Linked DNA regions of Homo sapiens: region 2 is linked to region 1. The links come from fine-mapping of genetic effects on gene expression. Tissue or cell type: monocytes after LPS. Region 1 holds a variant in brackets; the other region holds the start of a gene. All regions are shown on one strand. Distances are between the middles of the regions.

Region 1 (8,107 bases):
TTCTCATTAGGGCTGGTGTGTATAGGAAACCTAATTCTCCATATGCACAAAAGTTGTGGGAACACCAAAAAAAAAGCACTTATTTTCTGATCACAAGATTAAGCAGAGTGATGCCTATACTGGTTAATAATGGAATTGAGGTCTGGTAGGTGGAAAGACAAGAGGCCCAAGATAAGTAATAAAAGGAGACTCAGACACAGTGTTGGGGTTGGGGGCAACTGAGAGATGATGAGAGGGAGTTCAGCCAGGCCTTCCCTTCCCCTCAAACAGAGGGGCTTAAGAAGCTTAAGGAGAGCTCTCAGTGGAGGAGTCAGCAAAACGGAACTAAAGGAAATGGCCCTGAGGCTGGAGACAGGCTGGAGGCAAATAACTAGACAGAAATGTCCGCAAACAAATTCTAAAAATAAGACTTATCTCCTAAGCTAAACAAAATGAAAATCTACCTATGTGCACATAAATAGAATTCAAACAAAAAATAACCTTTCAAACAGCACTAAAGGGCACATTGAAAAATAAGTCCCTCCTGCCTCAGCCCCCTCAGGAAGCAGTTGGTGGCTGCCTGGCATGGTCTTGGAGTGCTGCCCCCCAGAGTCTTGACCGTCATTACAGGGTGAAAGCATAAATGTTAGGGGAACTCCAGGATCCCTAGAGCTCTAAAACCAGCATCCATCCCTGTGTGTCAGTGCTGAACCAGTTGTTAAATATTTTGAACATCACTGGTATCCTTCTAGAAATATGTGCACATATACAAGTATATCCCTACAACACCTCTTTTTTCCTTTTCATACAAATGGAAGAACTGAATAAAAAGCATTCCACATTTTGCCTTTTTTTGTGCCTACTTGGTCTATCTTTAAATGCATGAATATACATCGTATGTTTTTCTTTCAGAAATAACAGAATTTAGGTTACAGAGATAACAGAATACCTAAAACTGAGATATGGAGCACAGGAGTAACACGAGAGACTTTGGAATAACCTCTTGGAGCTTTTCATTAGGCACCAGTGAACCAGGCCAATGGCGACTGGGGAAACCACTCTGAAAGATGGAATCTGAGTGTGCTAGTCCAGGCTAACAGCGCCCTGCAGGCTTGGGCAAAAGGGAAAAGGAGGGACAAGATCAGTCACATTTGCCCAGGAGGGATCTAAGCTTCCTAGAGCCCTGACTCTTAGTGCCTAAATACAGCAGTTACCGAGAATCAAACCAGCCTCGGGTGGCACCAAGTTAAATTTCAAATTTCACACTCTGAACTTTTTCCAGGGAGTTTTTCCTTCATTCAAAAGAGATATAAAGTGAAGTTCTTCGTAAAAGACCTAAAATTTATTTCTCCTAATTGTCCCATTTTTACCTCAAATGCTGAAGGAAACATAGAGTTTTATTCATGAGAGAGAAAATACTTATAAACTAAACTTGAACTGGATTTTACAGTATATTCTACACATTGAAAAGTCAAGAGCACTAGGTGTACTCTTCTTACAGGTATGTTTATTTAAAAAACCCAAAGAACCAACCGGGCATGGTGGCTCACGCCTATAATCCCAGCACCTTGGGAGGCCGAGGTGGGAGGATCACGACGAGGTCAGGAGATTGAGACCATCTTGGCCAACATGGTAAAATCCCATCTCTACTAACATACAAAAAAAATTAGCTGGGCATGGTGGTGGTGTCCTCCTGTAGTCCCAGCTACTTGGGAGGCTGAGGTAGGGAAATCACTTGAACCCGGGAGGTGGAGGTTGCAGTGAGCGGAGATCACGCCACTGCACTCAGCAAGATTATGTCAAAAACAAAACAAACAAAAACAAAAACAAAACCAGTATGGGACAGGAGGCAAGTGTTAATTTTCCATGTCTCATTTCTGTTTCTATACAACATATTTTCATTATTTTAATATAAATGAGAGAGAGGCAGAGATTGAAGAAGAACATTTAAAACTGAGGGAGTAAACTGCACAGGAAGAGTACACAGAATGGGAGCAGAAAACTATTATCTAATACTTTTGTTGTTCCCTGATGTCCCCAGAAATTTTCAGTCTAGAAAGAGTCATAAAGGAGCAATTTCTGCTGATAGACTGTCACCTAGCGGTGGGTTTTTACCTTATTCATAATATAAGTGGCTGCTGAGCTTTGGAATGTTTTTAGAAAACATGCTCATTACTCCTTAAGATCTCCGGGGAACCTTTTACAATACTGTCACAAGCAGAATGTAACTCACTTTTGTGCTTCCCAAAGGTCTAATGTCCTTGTCGGCAATAGCTAAAACAGGTTGCACATCCTTCAAAAGGAAGTTTTGCCTCTGTAATTATTTGAATATTGTCAAAGAAGCCCTGTAGGCAAAATTAAGATTCGTAACTTTCTCTTCTGTTTACAACTCATAGCACCCTCAGTGTTCTCCTTGCTAATGGTCAAACTAGGCCCATATTTTCTAAAGTTTTCTCCATTTTTAGGTGGTGACAAAAGAGTGTATGTAACCCACTGGTCACATTGGCCTAGAGATACGATTCAGGACAAGGAAGTCACAAACTCAGCAACAAGACAATGTTCCCTAGATTTAATCTATGCCAGGAATCCATCCTGCTTGGTCACAAAGAGGCATTACAGTCCTCTTTGTCCAGTCCTTACTCTCTGTGTGATACCAGCCCTCTTGGCCAGGAGGGTTCCTACTGTTGCCTTAACCCTAGTCAACAGGGAGGCACCCTGCTCCCATCAGTGATAAAGTCTATGTTCAGGCGACAGAGCCAGCACATAGCTCTCTGTTATCAACATCCATTCTGCATGCCATACTATTTCAACCATTTATGCAGTATTGGCACTATATGTGTCACATGAAACAGAACAGATAGACCACATCCACACCAAGAAGTTGTGATCAGAAGGGAAAGCACTGGGTGTTATGAGGAGAGGTTGTCACCTACATTGGGAAGATCTGAGTGAGGTCCCTTTTAGGAAGGTTGCATCTGAGTAGAAGTCAGCCAGATGAAAAGCATCCTTGTCACAATGGAAAAGATAAATAAAATGTGGTATAGCCATACAATGGACATAAAAAGGAATGAAATACTAACTCAATCCACAATATGAATAAATCTTGAAAATGTTATGTATGCTAAATGAAAGAAGCCAGACACAAAAGACCACATAGCATGGCTGGGTGAAGTGGCTCATGCCTGTAATCCCACACTTTGGGAGGTCAAGGCAGGCAATCTCTTGGGCTCAGGGGTCTGAGACCAGCCTGGGTAACATAGTGAGACCTTGTATCTACAAAAAATAAATAGAAAATTAGCCAGATGCAGCACACGATTATAGTCCCAGCTACTTAGGAGGTTGAGGTGGGAGGATAGCTTGAGCCTGGGAGGTCAAAGGTACAGTGAGCTGTGGTCATGTCACTGCACTCTAGCCTAGGTAACAGAGTGAGAGCCCGTCTCAA[A/AACACAC]ACACACACACACACACACACACACACCATATAATTCCATTTATATGAAATGTCCAGAATGGGCAAATCTATAGAAATAGATTAGTGGCGGCCAGGCACAGTGGCTCACGCCTGTAATCCTAACACTTTGGGAGGCTGAGGTGGGCGGATCACCTGAGGTTGGGAGTTTGAGACCAGCCTGACCAACATGGAGATACCCCGCCTCTACTAAAAATACAAAATTAGCCTGGCATGGTGGCGCATGCCTGTAATCCCAGCTACTCCAGAGGCTGAGGCAGGAGAATCACCTGGGAGCCAGAGGTTGTGGTGAGCCAAGATTGCATCATTGCACTCCAGCCTGGGCAACCAAAAAAAAAAGTAAGAAGAAAGAAAGAAATAGATTGGTGGCTGCTTATGGCTGGGGGTGGGGAGGGGGAAATAGAAAAATGAGTGACTACTAATGGCTAGGGTTTTATTGGAGGGAGTGATGAAAATGTTCTAAAATGGTGACACAAGTTGCACAATTCTGTGAATAGACTAAACTACTGAACTATTATACACTTAAATGAATTGTATCATAGTGAAATATATGTCAATAAAGTCGTTACTTAAAAATCTGGAGTCACAGATCTTAGGTTTAAGAATGCCAAATATGGAAGTATATCTCTTGTGTTCAACTCATTTTTTTCCTTCTAGCTCTTTCTCCTTAAGAACCCAGTAAGCATTCACTAAAGGGCTAAGCCAAAAGACAGCTGAGCATGGCCGCACTATGCTGCCCCCTCCTGGGATCCCAAAGGATCTTCTGAACCCAAGCTTATGCACAGGACTTTTCCCTTCTCAAGAGATGTCCCTCTCCTAGTTAGCACTCACGCTCAGAAGATAAACCCTAAAGGACAAGGGTTTTTGTCTCAGGGCCAGCAATCAGTTCAACTTCTATTCGTGGCCTGTTCCCTTCTCTGAAGACCTCTGGACTCTGATGAAAAAATAAACCCTACCTTTTCCATCAGCCCCATTGACACACCCATACAAGCCAGAATTTCCAGAAGTGACTCTCATACCCGGTTACGCATTCTTCACAGTGAATGGAACAGACTCTTGTCCACCTGTGGACAGACCTTTTACTGGAACACAATGGGTAACAACACTTCAAGATCCAACTTAGGTCTCCTTCCTTCATAAGTGTTCCGCAATTTAGCAGTGTTTCAGTTGTTGAAAACCCATTTTCTCTTTTCAGGTTAGTATAGCCTTACCAGAAGATAAGGGGAAACTTTCTGGGGGACCACCCCTCACCCACAGTCAGTTCAGGAGCCTGTGATGGGGGCATCACCTCCAGCTCCAAGGATAGAACATATGACTGTTCTGACCAAGTTCATTGCACCATATCTCCCAAGCTCTTTCCCCTGCACCAGTGGGTTTCAAATTTGAATTGTAGCAAACAAAATCTGATACAAAACCCTGACATACATTTGTTTTAAACAAAGAAGAGTTGATGGTAGTAATATTTCTAAATCTCACCCTCTTGGCCTGCACTTGGATAGACACTATGTCCTGCACTGTGGGAAAAACAAAGGAATAGGACATGATGCCTGCCTTGAACACCTTGCAGTGGAGTTGGGGGCAAGAAACAAAAGCAAGAAAATTAATGATTAAATAATACTACATAATAATAGAAGAAATCTCACAGAGACTGCCGCTTATCAGAAGGGGGTTAGAGGCCTGCAGTTCAGCACTGAGCCTTTTGTTGCCTCTCTTCTTCTAAGCCCTACTCATTGTCTGATATTTAGCTTGGCTGTGACCTTCCCCAGTAAGACGTTTCTGGAACACCCTCCTGCCTCTTCACACACACACACACACACACACACACACACACCACCCCCTTCAGCCCAGATTAGAGCTCAGTGTTCCTGTAATATCTCTGTACAGTCTATCACTGCATTTACCATATTTTAAAACAACGTCTCCCCAACACTTCACAGTATAGGCTCTGAGTTTCATAACGGCACAGAGTGGATACTGTAAGAATGCAGTGAGACTCTCCCTACTCCATGCTCCTTTCTTCCATCTTTTGTTCCACAGATGTCAGCCCTACATCAGTCTGCAGGCTGCTCCTGTCTGCTCCAAATCCCTCCCCCAGTAAGTTTCTTGCACATCTAATCCCATCTTAGCATCTGCTTCTTGGTAGACACTAACAAATTATTATAAGGAATTACTTTGCACTACCATATTTATACAAAAAGTAGTTAGTTCATGCATTTAGAATATTGGTTTGTTGGTTGACAATGTTAAGCCTAATGACCTATACCTTTTGGGTACTGACATACTTAATTTTGCACTTATTAAACTGTGACTTTCCAAAAAAAAAAAAAACTTTCATTGTACCATTAGGATATAATATTCTTGTTAATATTACAAAAACCAAACCAAAACAAAAACCATGCTGCAGCCTTAGGAGAACTTGCTTCATGTAACTAAGGGTTTTTCTTTTTCTTTTCTTTTTGTATTTTTTTTTCCTGTAGGATAACATAGTGTTAAAAGCACAAGCTTCTGGACTACTTGAAATCAAACCACAGCTTAACCAGCTCTATGGCTTTTGGCAAATTACTTCAACTCTTTAAACCTGTTTCTGATCTGTAAAATGGAATGATCCTTGCTCATCTGTAATATATACATTTATAAAACAGGACCCACCAATGGGATTATTTTATGAATTAAATGTTAAAACAGCTAGAACGGTGCAGGCTGAGTAAGCACTGAACACAGTACTTATTAGCTATTATCTCTGGTGCTCTGTGCAACGAAAGAACTATTAGAATACATTTAAAAGCACTTTGCAAACTAGAAAGCCCTTTGAACAATTTAGTTTCTCTAAATGTAATAATAAGCATCAGCCATCGCCTTTTATGGAAAATTGAGGTGGAATCACATCAGCAAGAGAAAACTGAGGACTTGTCTCTGGCTCTGTTCCTGATTTATTCACACAGTACATGATCCTAGAATAAGACTCCTGATACTCCTGAAAGTAGAGGCGGTTGGGTTAAAAATAATTTTCCCTTTCAAAACTCTTTCAAATGTTCTCCAAAAGAAGCCAGGAAAGCTCCCGTATGAGTAGATAATTCACTTTAAAATTCGCTCATCTCTCTTTAACACGAGAGTCTGCAGGGCTGGTGCAGCGGCGTCAACCCGAAGAGACCTGAACGCCGATGGGCAGTTGGGATTCTCCGTACGCCTCGGAAACAGCAGCCCAAACCTCACAACGCAGAACCACGAGATAGTGGGGATTGCAGAGCCCTGCGCAAGAGAAGGAAAATTAAGACGCAGCGGAGCCCAGGAGGTGCCCGCACGCGGGAAGGACTGGCGTGCAGACGAGGCAGGGGGAGGTTTGCACTCGGCGTGGCGCGGGTGAGCCGCGTGCTCTCGGGCACCCGGCCGCCAGTTCGGATGCTTCCGATCCTCGGGGAGCCGGGGCGCTGCGCCGGAGTCACTTCAGCCCATGTTGTTCAGGTGACACCCGGGGAAGAGCAGACTCCAGTGTGCAAAACGTTTCGGGGTTTCCGGGCCAGCGGTTCCGGGCGCGCCTCGCGGGCGGCGGCGCAGAACTACAACCCCCAGGCTCCCTGGCGTGGCGGCACGTGGGCCCGAGCCGGGCGGCCGCGGATATAAAGCGCGGCGGCGGCTGCCGGGCGGAGCGGCTGCACGGACAAGAGCGGAGGCCTGGGTGAGCGCGGCCCGCGACGGCACGGGCTAGGACAGACGGACGCAGACGGCCCGACGACCTGGGCGTTCGGGCGGAGGGGCGCTGGGGCCTGACTCGCGGGTGGGTGAGACGTTGACGGACCCGGAGGAAAGAGGGAAGGCAGATACGCTGGGAAACGGATCTGGGGAAGGTGTGAATGCGAAAAGTGTAGGGACAGACGGGGGCAGAAGAACTTACTCCCCCGGATTGTTTGCAGACAGCATATCTGCCGGGTCTCCAAAGGTCCTTTCCTCAAAATAGAGTTAGCAATTGAGCAGAAGAGAGCTTAAAGTTAAACCTGATACATCCCCCCTTCACTTGAGGAGAAATTGGTGGTTTTCTGCTTTTTTAAAAATCCCTATTTGTATCTCCTCTTCTCCGAGTACCTGTCCCTCAAGATATTCTCTGCCCAGAGGTACATTCTGCCCTCACTTTCTGTCTCTTAAAAAAACAACTTTGCCATTTAAAAAAGAATTTGACTTAGGCAGCTTTAATTCTTTGCACTGAGTGTTCTTATCTGTGGATGGAGGTATAAGATTTCAAGAGTAATACCCCCTCCCAATGTTTCAGTAATAATCTAAATTCACATTAAGCCTTAGGCTGGAGAACATTTGAGCTATTCGCTTTAGCTACGAGCTCTGAAAACTTCAAAGCATAACATTCCCAAGTTTATCTAAAACTTGAATCTTAAAAATAATGATAATTATCTGTTATGCTTCAAAGCATAACATTCCCAAGTTTATTAAAAACTTGAATCTTAAAAATACTGATCATTCTCTGTTAAAGTCTTTTGTTGTTGTTGTTGTTGTTGTTGTTGTTGTTGTTGTTGTTGTTTTTGAGACGGAGTCTCGCTCTTGTCGCCCAGGCCGGACTGCAGTGGCGCTATCTCGGCTCACTGCAAGCTCCACCTCCCAGGTTCACGCCATTCTCCTGCCTCAGCCTCCCGAGTAGCTGGGACTACAGGCTCCCGCCAC
Region 2 (8,107 bases), 800 kb after region 1:
CTGAGATCGAGCCCTTGCACTCCAGCCTGGGCAACAAGAGTGAAACTCTGTCTCGGAAAAAGAAAAAAAATTAACATCTACTGCAAACTTTTTCTGTATAAGTGCATACGCTACTTACTTATCTGTAGTAATTTATTCTTATACATATAATGTTAATTTGTATTATCATTTTTGCAGCTGAAGTATATTTCCTCAAATGGATTAAACCAGGTTTTGGAAATGCATTTTGCTGGGATGAAGCCAGGTTTTGATGCAGTTTCATGATCATCCCCATTCTGTGACAGCTCAGTACCTCATAGGAGACCTACATGGGTGACCCCATCAGGGACACTGGTGGGGTGTCACACCAGCTGAGTATCAGGCCCATGGTGGTTACCTAGGCTCATTGTGCCTATGACACAGCTGATTTATAATCTGGTGGCAGACCTGCCTTGCCTCCCCAGTGAGAGCTTCTGCCTCACCTGCTGATTTATTGCATAACTGTCCCCAGAAGGGCCAGTCACATTTCCCAACAGAGGTTGGGAAGGTACTGCTCAAACACCAAGCCCGCAACACTGAGACCCCTTGGGTTTCTCTCTGAAATCCTCCAGTTGGTGCAACATTGAACCACTTACTTCTCTGTCTGGTAGTAGAGCATCCCTCGTTGGAAGTAAGCCACTGCCAAGTGCTTGTCTCGGTTAATGCTTCTGGTAAAGGCCTGAGGAGAGAAGGGTCCAGACATGGCCATGATGCAAGGCAGTGAGGAGGTGTGAGATGAGCCACGGCTCACAGAGCCCTAGCTCCCTGTGGTGCCCAGCTCTGCTGTCTGCCCTCGTCGGCACCTCGAGGCCCACCCTGTGCTCTCACGGTGCACCCCACTTCGCTCTCACATTTAGAAGCTGAAGTCTGGGACAATGGTGTGCATTCCTTGTATTGTCATTCCAGTTCTGCTGTGGATCTACAAAACATTCCTGGAGCCATACATATACCATCTGATTTCTGCTTTTGTTAGTCATATATGGCCTAGAAAAGCTACACAAGAATCCAATAATTCCCAGGTGCGGTTGCTCACACCTGTAATCCCAGCACTTTGGGAGGCCAAGGCAGGTGGATCACTTGAGCCCAGGAGTTCAAGACCAACCTGGGCAAAATAGTGAGACTCCATCTCTACGAAAAATTTAAAAATTAGTCAGATGTGGTGGCACATGCCTGTGGTCCCAGCTACTTGGGGGACTGAGGTAGGTCAATCGCTCAAGCCCAGGAGGTGGAGACTGCCGTGAGCTGTGACGGCACCACTGCACTCCAGCCTGGGCAACAAAGTAAGGCACCCTGTCTCAAAAAAAAAAAAAAAAAAAAAAAAAAAAAATCCAATGATACAAATAAAGACAAAGTGGACTATAAGGGTGCAGACACTAATGGATTATCACCAACAGAAATCTTAGAAGAAAAGAAACACTAAAGCATTTTCCCAAAGGAGCTCATCATTTTAAAAATGGACTTGACAATATGAAGCGCCTTCTTTGTAACTGTCTCTGACCTTCTCTGAGACTAGAATTCAGAATAGATAATTTAGACATTTACCTGATACTAATAAAAAATACATATCTATATTTAAAATATAGTTAGTTATATTTAATGACCTCATTCCCAAGTTCCTTTTTCATTAGTGTAGCTTTCATTTCTATTATCGCTGTTTTAATAATATGATTTAATATGATTAGATAGAAGCTTTGAGCCAGTAGACACTATGTTACTAAATCAGTACTTTAAAATCTTTGGTCTTCTGTCTTTCATTCATATGAATTTAACTGCTGTTTGCTCTAATTTCTTTGAGTTCTCCTAGTTTGAGTAGAGTACAATTTTACTGTGAAACAATGCAGCGAGACTGTGCTATGAAGTGAAGGTAGAGTTTTTGGAGGTGATAATGATGTCAAACTTAAAGATACAATTCCTATCCAACACAACAGAGCACCTTGTCCAGGAGAGTAGTAATTACTATTTATTGCTCTGTGGAAGATAAAAAAGATAGGGAAATAGGAGAAGCTTCTTTGAAAAATGAAACATCATTAGACGGGCTTGGTGGTGCATGCCTGTAATCCCAGCTACTTGGGAGGCTGAGGCAGGAGAATCACTTGAACCCAGGAGGCAGAGGTTGCAGTGAGCCGAGATTGCACCACTGCACTCCAGCCTGGGTGACAGAGTGAGACTCCATCTCAAAAAAAAAAAAAAAGAAAGAAAAAATGATATCTAATGTAATAATGAAATTTTAACCCTTGTTGCATTTCTTGTATTCCTATGAATGTATTGAACATTCAGTTTAAATAAATAATAAAATTTATTGCAAATGAAAATAATTAAAATATTATATAAATTGTTATATTTGTTTACTATACAAACTTATACATGAATAGTATACAATTAAAATGATAATGAATAAGAATGCATATAAATGCTAGTAGGAAGGGCTCAAGCAGGAAAACAAAGAAAGGCAGAAGGAATGAGAAGGCTAGAAGCAGAGGAATGCCAGGAGAAACAGAGACATGTGGGCCTGAAGGCCTGGGAGCTGAGAAGTGAGTGGTGGCCCACACAACCTTGCCAAGGATCCCATATCCAGGCCAAGGCAGGAGGCTACAGTCCCTGCTGGCATAGCTGTGCCCAGACTAGCTGCCAATCTCTTCTCCTGGACAATGTGCACTTTGTGTCCATCAGCCCTCAGAATGTGTGGTGCTGTTCACTCAGCCCCTCAGCAGGCCCCTGAGAGGAGGTGGGGCCATGTCCTTCCTCCAGCCAGAGGTGGGGGGTCCTGCCATGCTCTGCCTTAGAGCCTGAGATTGACTTGTCAAGCTATGTGAGAACATTTCAGTCACTTCTCTGTCTTCCTGTCAGGAGGGTGTGGCTGAGGCTTGTTTACCTACTGTTGGAGTGTGGAAGGGACTGATTCTTTAAGGGACCTGGGGAGTCAACCACTGCCACACCTTGCAAAGACTGGCAGTAATCGGTAAAAATAATAACTAACTCTTATACAGTGGTGTGAAGTTCCACGAGACATTAATAGTTTGGCATCTCACTTAATTTTCATGATATTTAGAAACTCAGGAAGCTGAAAGCCAGATGTCTACATAGGCTACATAGCTTGCTTAAGACTAAAAGTCCAGAGAGAGACAGAGGCTAGGATTCGATCCTAGATCTTCTCCTTCCAAACTCCATACCCTTTCCACCTTACCACAACCAATCAAAAAAATAATTATCGAGAATGCTTAACTCCATACTATGGTATTTGAGTGAGAAAACATAACGAAAAAGATGCGAGACATCCCACACCATGCCCCCAGCAGACATCACTAGTCAATCACAGTACAATTTCCTCTTGCCAGCCTCAGCATCTTTAAAAGAGTCTCCTTTATAATTGATCAGAATTGTCACTTGGGATAAAAGCTATTTTTTGTAAGTGCCTCCCTTAAATCTCTTGAGCAGGCAAAGTCGACACACATGAAAGTCTTGGAAAGCCAAAAGAGGTGCCTTAGAATCAATAATCAGGTGTAAAGCGCTGGGATAGATAGAGATTCTGTGCCCAGAAGGAGTTCTGTGTAGAAGAAAGTACGACTAGGACAGCCTTCACAAAGGTGTTAAAGACACTTGTAGAATGATTTTAATTTAGAAGATGGAGAAAGAGGCAACCCTGGCTGCCCCTCACCTGCTCTCCACCTGGAGAGCTTTTAAAACTGGCTGCCTGGGGCCCCTCCCAGACCAGTTAAATCAGGCTGTCTAGGGGTGGAGCTTGGGCAACTTTTGTTCTTTTCAATCTCCCCAGAGGTTAGGTTTCCGAAATGCAATGGGGTTGAGAATCATAATAACAAATGCACAGAGGAGGCCCGGAAAGAGGCACCTCCACTCACCTTCTCTGCTTCAGTCATGTTCTTCAGGATAGTGTACATGCAGCCAATGTTGAAGCAAATCCGGGAGTGGGGGTCCTGGACGGCACTGAAGGCATCCAGGGCTCCCTTCCAGTCCTTCTTGTCCGCTGCCAGCACCCCTTCATTCCAGAGGCTGATGGCCTCCACCAGGGACATGATTAGGTAGAAACTAGGAGGCCAAGAGAGCTGCCAGGAGACAGAGAGAAGACAGGTTGGAGCGTCTCCCCTAGCAGGGCTGCCTTAGTGGCCCCCAAGGTGTTCACTTTCTGGGCCAGATGAGTAGAATGGGGCCCAGCCTCCCTTAAGATAACTTCTCAGTGTTGCAAATGCATCAGGAAATGTCCCCACCTTTTGGCAACTGACTCATAACCCTACCATGAGAGAGAAAAGGAAAGAAGCAGAGAGAGAGAGGGCGAGTAGGGGTGGAGTGTGGAGGAGAGAGGAAGTACATCAGCTGCTGCCTGAAGGATCAGTTCCCCAAAATGCTTCTGCTCTGTCACCCAGCTCCTCTTCTCTCTCCCACCCCTGTTCTGTGGCAGCTTCTGGCCAAAGTTCTGCTTCTAGAGCCAGGGTAACCTTGGCAGGTAGAGGCACCTCCCTGGTGATAATGACAGGAGGCAGCCAAATGCCTAGGCAGATAGGGGCAGGTCCCTGGTGAAACCCCACCTTCAAGCCAAAAACAGCCTGAAGGCTGAAAGACTAGGCTACTGGTCCCAAATGAAACCCGTGACCTAGAGTGAGAACTTCTGTTCCTGTTTGTCTGCTCTTTCCCAATTAATTATTTCTGACTAATGCCTTTTAACCAATTGAATGTTGCCTTTTCCAGTACTACCTATGTCCTGCCCCTCCCCTATTCTGAGCCCATAAAAGCCCCAGACTCACCCGCACTGGGGGGACTTTCCTGCCTTTGGGTAGGGGAACCACCCCTGCATCCCCTCTCCACTGAAAGCTGTTTTCATCACTCAATAAAACTCCCCACCCAGGCCGAGTGGGCAGGCCATCTCCTGCAGCAGGTAGTGTGGCCCACTGAGGCCTGGGCAGGGTGTCACCAGCCAGAGGTTCCTGGCTTACAAAGTGATGGAGAAAAAATCCTGTGTCACTGGGCCTTGATTTCCACACCCTTGTTAAATGGGAGTGTCAGATGAGAGGATAATTCTTTCCAGTCTTGAATGAATTCCTTGCTCACTTTTTTGTAATCCCATAGGCTGTATTAATATGTTAGTGTTTATCTTGAGCTGAAATTATCATTAACAAATTTTTGAGACAGGATAATCTTTGGAGATCCATCTGATCTGGGCCTGAAATAACTTTTTTTTTTTTTTTTTTGAGACGGAGTTTCACTCTTGTTGCCCAGGCTGGAATGCAGTGACACGATCTCAGCTCATTGCAACCTCTGCCTCCTGGGTTCAAGCAATTCTCCTGCCTCAGCCTCCTGAGTAGCTGGGATTACAGAAGCCTGCCACCACGCCCTGCTAATTTTTGTATTTTTAGTAGAGATGGGGTTTCACCATGTTGGCCAGGCTGATGGTCTCGAACTCCTGACCTCAGGTGATTCGGCCTCCTCGGCCTCCCCTCAAAGTGCTGGGATTACAGGAGTGAGCCACCGTGCCCAGCCGAAATAACTTTTATGAACATTCATGAAGTTCAGAGGGGACCAATTTCCTGCAAATGTCAAAATTGGGAGCCACATGACAGTGAATTATGACTTCTCCCATCTTCCAGTGAAAAATTGAAGAGATGAAAGTCCTGCACTGATGACTAATGGATTTACTAGTCTCTGAAAAAACAGATTTAAGAGTTCTTTCCTTGCTTTTCCAGAAAAGTAAAAATCAGTAAAACCTCCCAGAGGAATAACTGGGGGTAAAGGGTATAGCCAATTTGGCTTGCTAAAATCCAGGCTTCTTTTTAGGTAAAATGCATGTTTATGGGGGTCAAATACTTAGATGCAAACTCTTGTTTTGTAGCAACTGAAAGAATTCACTCATTATCACCAAGCTTCCCCTAAAAGCCTGAAAATAAAACTTAAAAATGTATACTCCACAGTGCTTGTAGGATTGAAGGTGTGAGAATTAAGAAGACATGTGTGTCTTTGTCCAGATTGTTTTCCTGTGTTTACAAGGCCTTCCCAGCTCTCTTCTTTGCCTGGCAAACTCCTACTCATCTTTCAAAGCCCAGTTTAAATGTCACCAACTGTGCTAAATCTAGCCCTGAACTCTGGGTAGTAGGAGAATTTTCCTCTCCTTTGTACCACCTTTACCCAAAAACTTGCATCATACTTACTGCAATTTATCTCTTTATCTGCTCAATTCATGGGCTCCTTGGAAGTTGGGACCATGCCTTTTCATTCTAGGATCTCTAGCACAGATACTCAATACATGATGAAGGGATACATTCTAAAAGAAATTAGAAATCATTGGTAAATGACCTGCAGGTAGCAGTGATGGCAGAAAGAGGTATTGCTATTCCATCTAGTGAATAAATAATCAGGACTTGAATAGCACATTAATTATTCCTGAGAAAACCAAATGGATTTGTAGCTAAATTAGACTTCATTTTTAAAAAATGTTTTTGCCCTCCTATTATCCCACCCTGACACTCAGAACTCTCCTTAATCTGACTGCCAAGACTTTTCTAGCCTTATCCCCAGAACTTTCCTTCACAATCCCATACAAACTCTGCTGCTTACTCTTCTCCCGCTATGCCTTCATTCCTGCATCTGTGCGACTCGTGCTAGTTCCTCTTTCTAGGCTGCCCTCTCCCATGTCTGCACCTTCAAACCCACCTTGCATAGCCTTCGAAGGCCTGCTAAAATAGCACTCTCCTTAACACACTGCCCTGAAATCAGTCCTGCCTGAAAGCGCTCAAACCCATGATCTCGCCTTCTGAACTCCTGCATCTCCTTCTCCGCACCTCCCATGTGGCCCTTAATCACTCTTCACCAATGTATGTGCATGCAAGTCTTAGCACCTCAAATAGTGTGCCTCAGGAGGAAGTCCTGGGCTAACCCATGTTTGTATCCCCCAGGGCACTAGCAAAGCCATTCATGCTCCATTTCATCCACTTTCCCTCCCCTTCTCCTGTCACCACTCAGGCCAAGCCACTATCAACTCCCAGGTGAACATGATAGTCTTTTAACATTTCTTTGCCTCTCCATCCAGATTGAGCTTTTAAAAACACAAGTCAGATCACTTCATGGCCCCTGTTTTTAAACCTTCCATGGCTTTGCACTGCTCTCAGGATATAACCCGAACTCCTTCCCATGCTGCAGGAAGCCCCCTGCCTGCTGCCCTGTGCTCATTCCAGGTCATTTCCCCTCCTCCTCTCCCAAGAACTCCAGCTACACAGGCCTCCTTTCATGGTTTCATATGAGCCAGCCTCTTCCTCCGCCCATGTAACACTCTTCCCCCAAGCCTGCCTGGCTAGTTCCTACTCATCTTTCACTTCCTCAATGAGTGGCCTTTCTAGATCCATGACCTTGCTATGTGCACGGTTCTCTCTGATCATGTATTTGTTACAGTTTGTAACTGTATGTCATCTGTGACATTGTTTCTGTCCCTCAATGCAGGGGCAGTCTATTTAATCATTACTTGGTGCTGTTAGTAGACGGTCTGTTCAGCCACTGTCCATTCGCCTTCCTCCTTTTGGTAGAACCCCAGTTCTGTTCAAGCCTCCAGTTTCCTGAAGCCATGCGCTTCAGGAGGGAAAGTCTGCTAAGAATTTCTGGGAAAGATTTCTTCCCCAGTGATAAAAAATAAAACACATGAGAAGAAACAGCACTTGTTTCTCTACTAGACAGCATTGTGAGATGTGTCTGGAATATGGCAGCTGTCTTATAATCATGAGGGGAGACAACTAAGAACAAGCCATTGTCTGAAAGAAAAGAGAATGGAAAATTACAAAGAGCTCAGATGCTTAGTTATGCTGATGAGATGTGTTGCATTATCTGTTTTCTGCAAATCTGGCTGGGCACAATGGCTCACATCTGTAATCCCAACACTTAGGTGGGAAGATCCCTTGAGGTCAGGAGTTAGAGACCAGCCTGGGCAATGAAGCCAGACCCCATCTCTACAGAAAAACACTAAAAATTAGCCAGGCATGGTGGCACATGCCTGTAGCCCCAGCTTCTCAGGAGGCTAAGGTGGGAGGATCATTTGAGCTCAGGACTTCAAAGGCTGCAGTGAGTGATGATCACGCCACTGCATTCCAGCCTAGGT

What was found. PIP is the estimated chance that this variant, and not a neighbour inherited with it, causes the effect.
Region 2: NCF2 starts here. The variant in region 1 is fine-mapped to the expression of NCF2 in monocytes after LPS (Fairfax 2014, PIP 0.95).

What each region holds. Positions count from the first base shown.
Region 1 is chr1:182,782,691-182,790,797 of GRCh38, forward strand. NPL (N-acetylneuraminate pyruvate lyase) reads left to right here and starts at 7,083. Exons shown (of 13, transcript NM_030769.3): 1 at 7,083-7,115. RefSeq lists an enhancer at 6,736-7,236. The variant A/AACACAC (reference allele first, on the strand shown) is at 3,422.
Region 2 is chr1:183,586,281-183,594,387 of GRCh38, forward strand. NCF2 (neutrophil cytosolic factor 2) reads right to left here and starts at 4,179. Exons shown (of 15, transcript NM_000433.4): 1 at 3,876-4,179; 2 at 615-697. The coding sequence starts at 4,049. It also overlaps the pseudogene C18orf32P1. RefSeq lists enhancers at 4,199-4,458, 4,569-4,908, 7,529-7,588.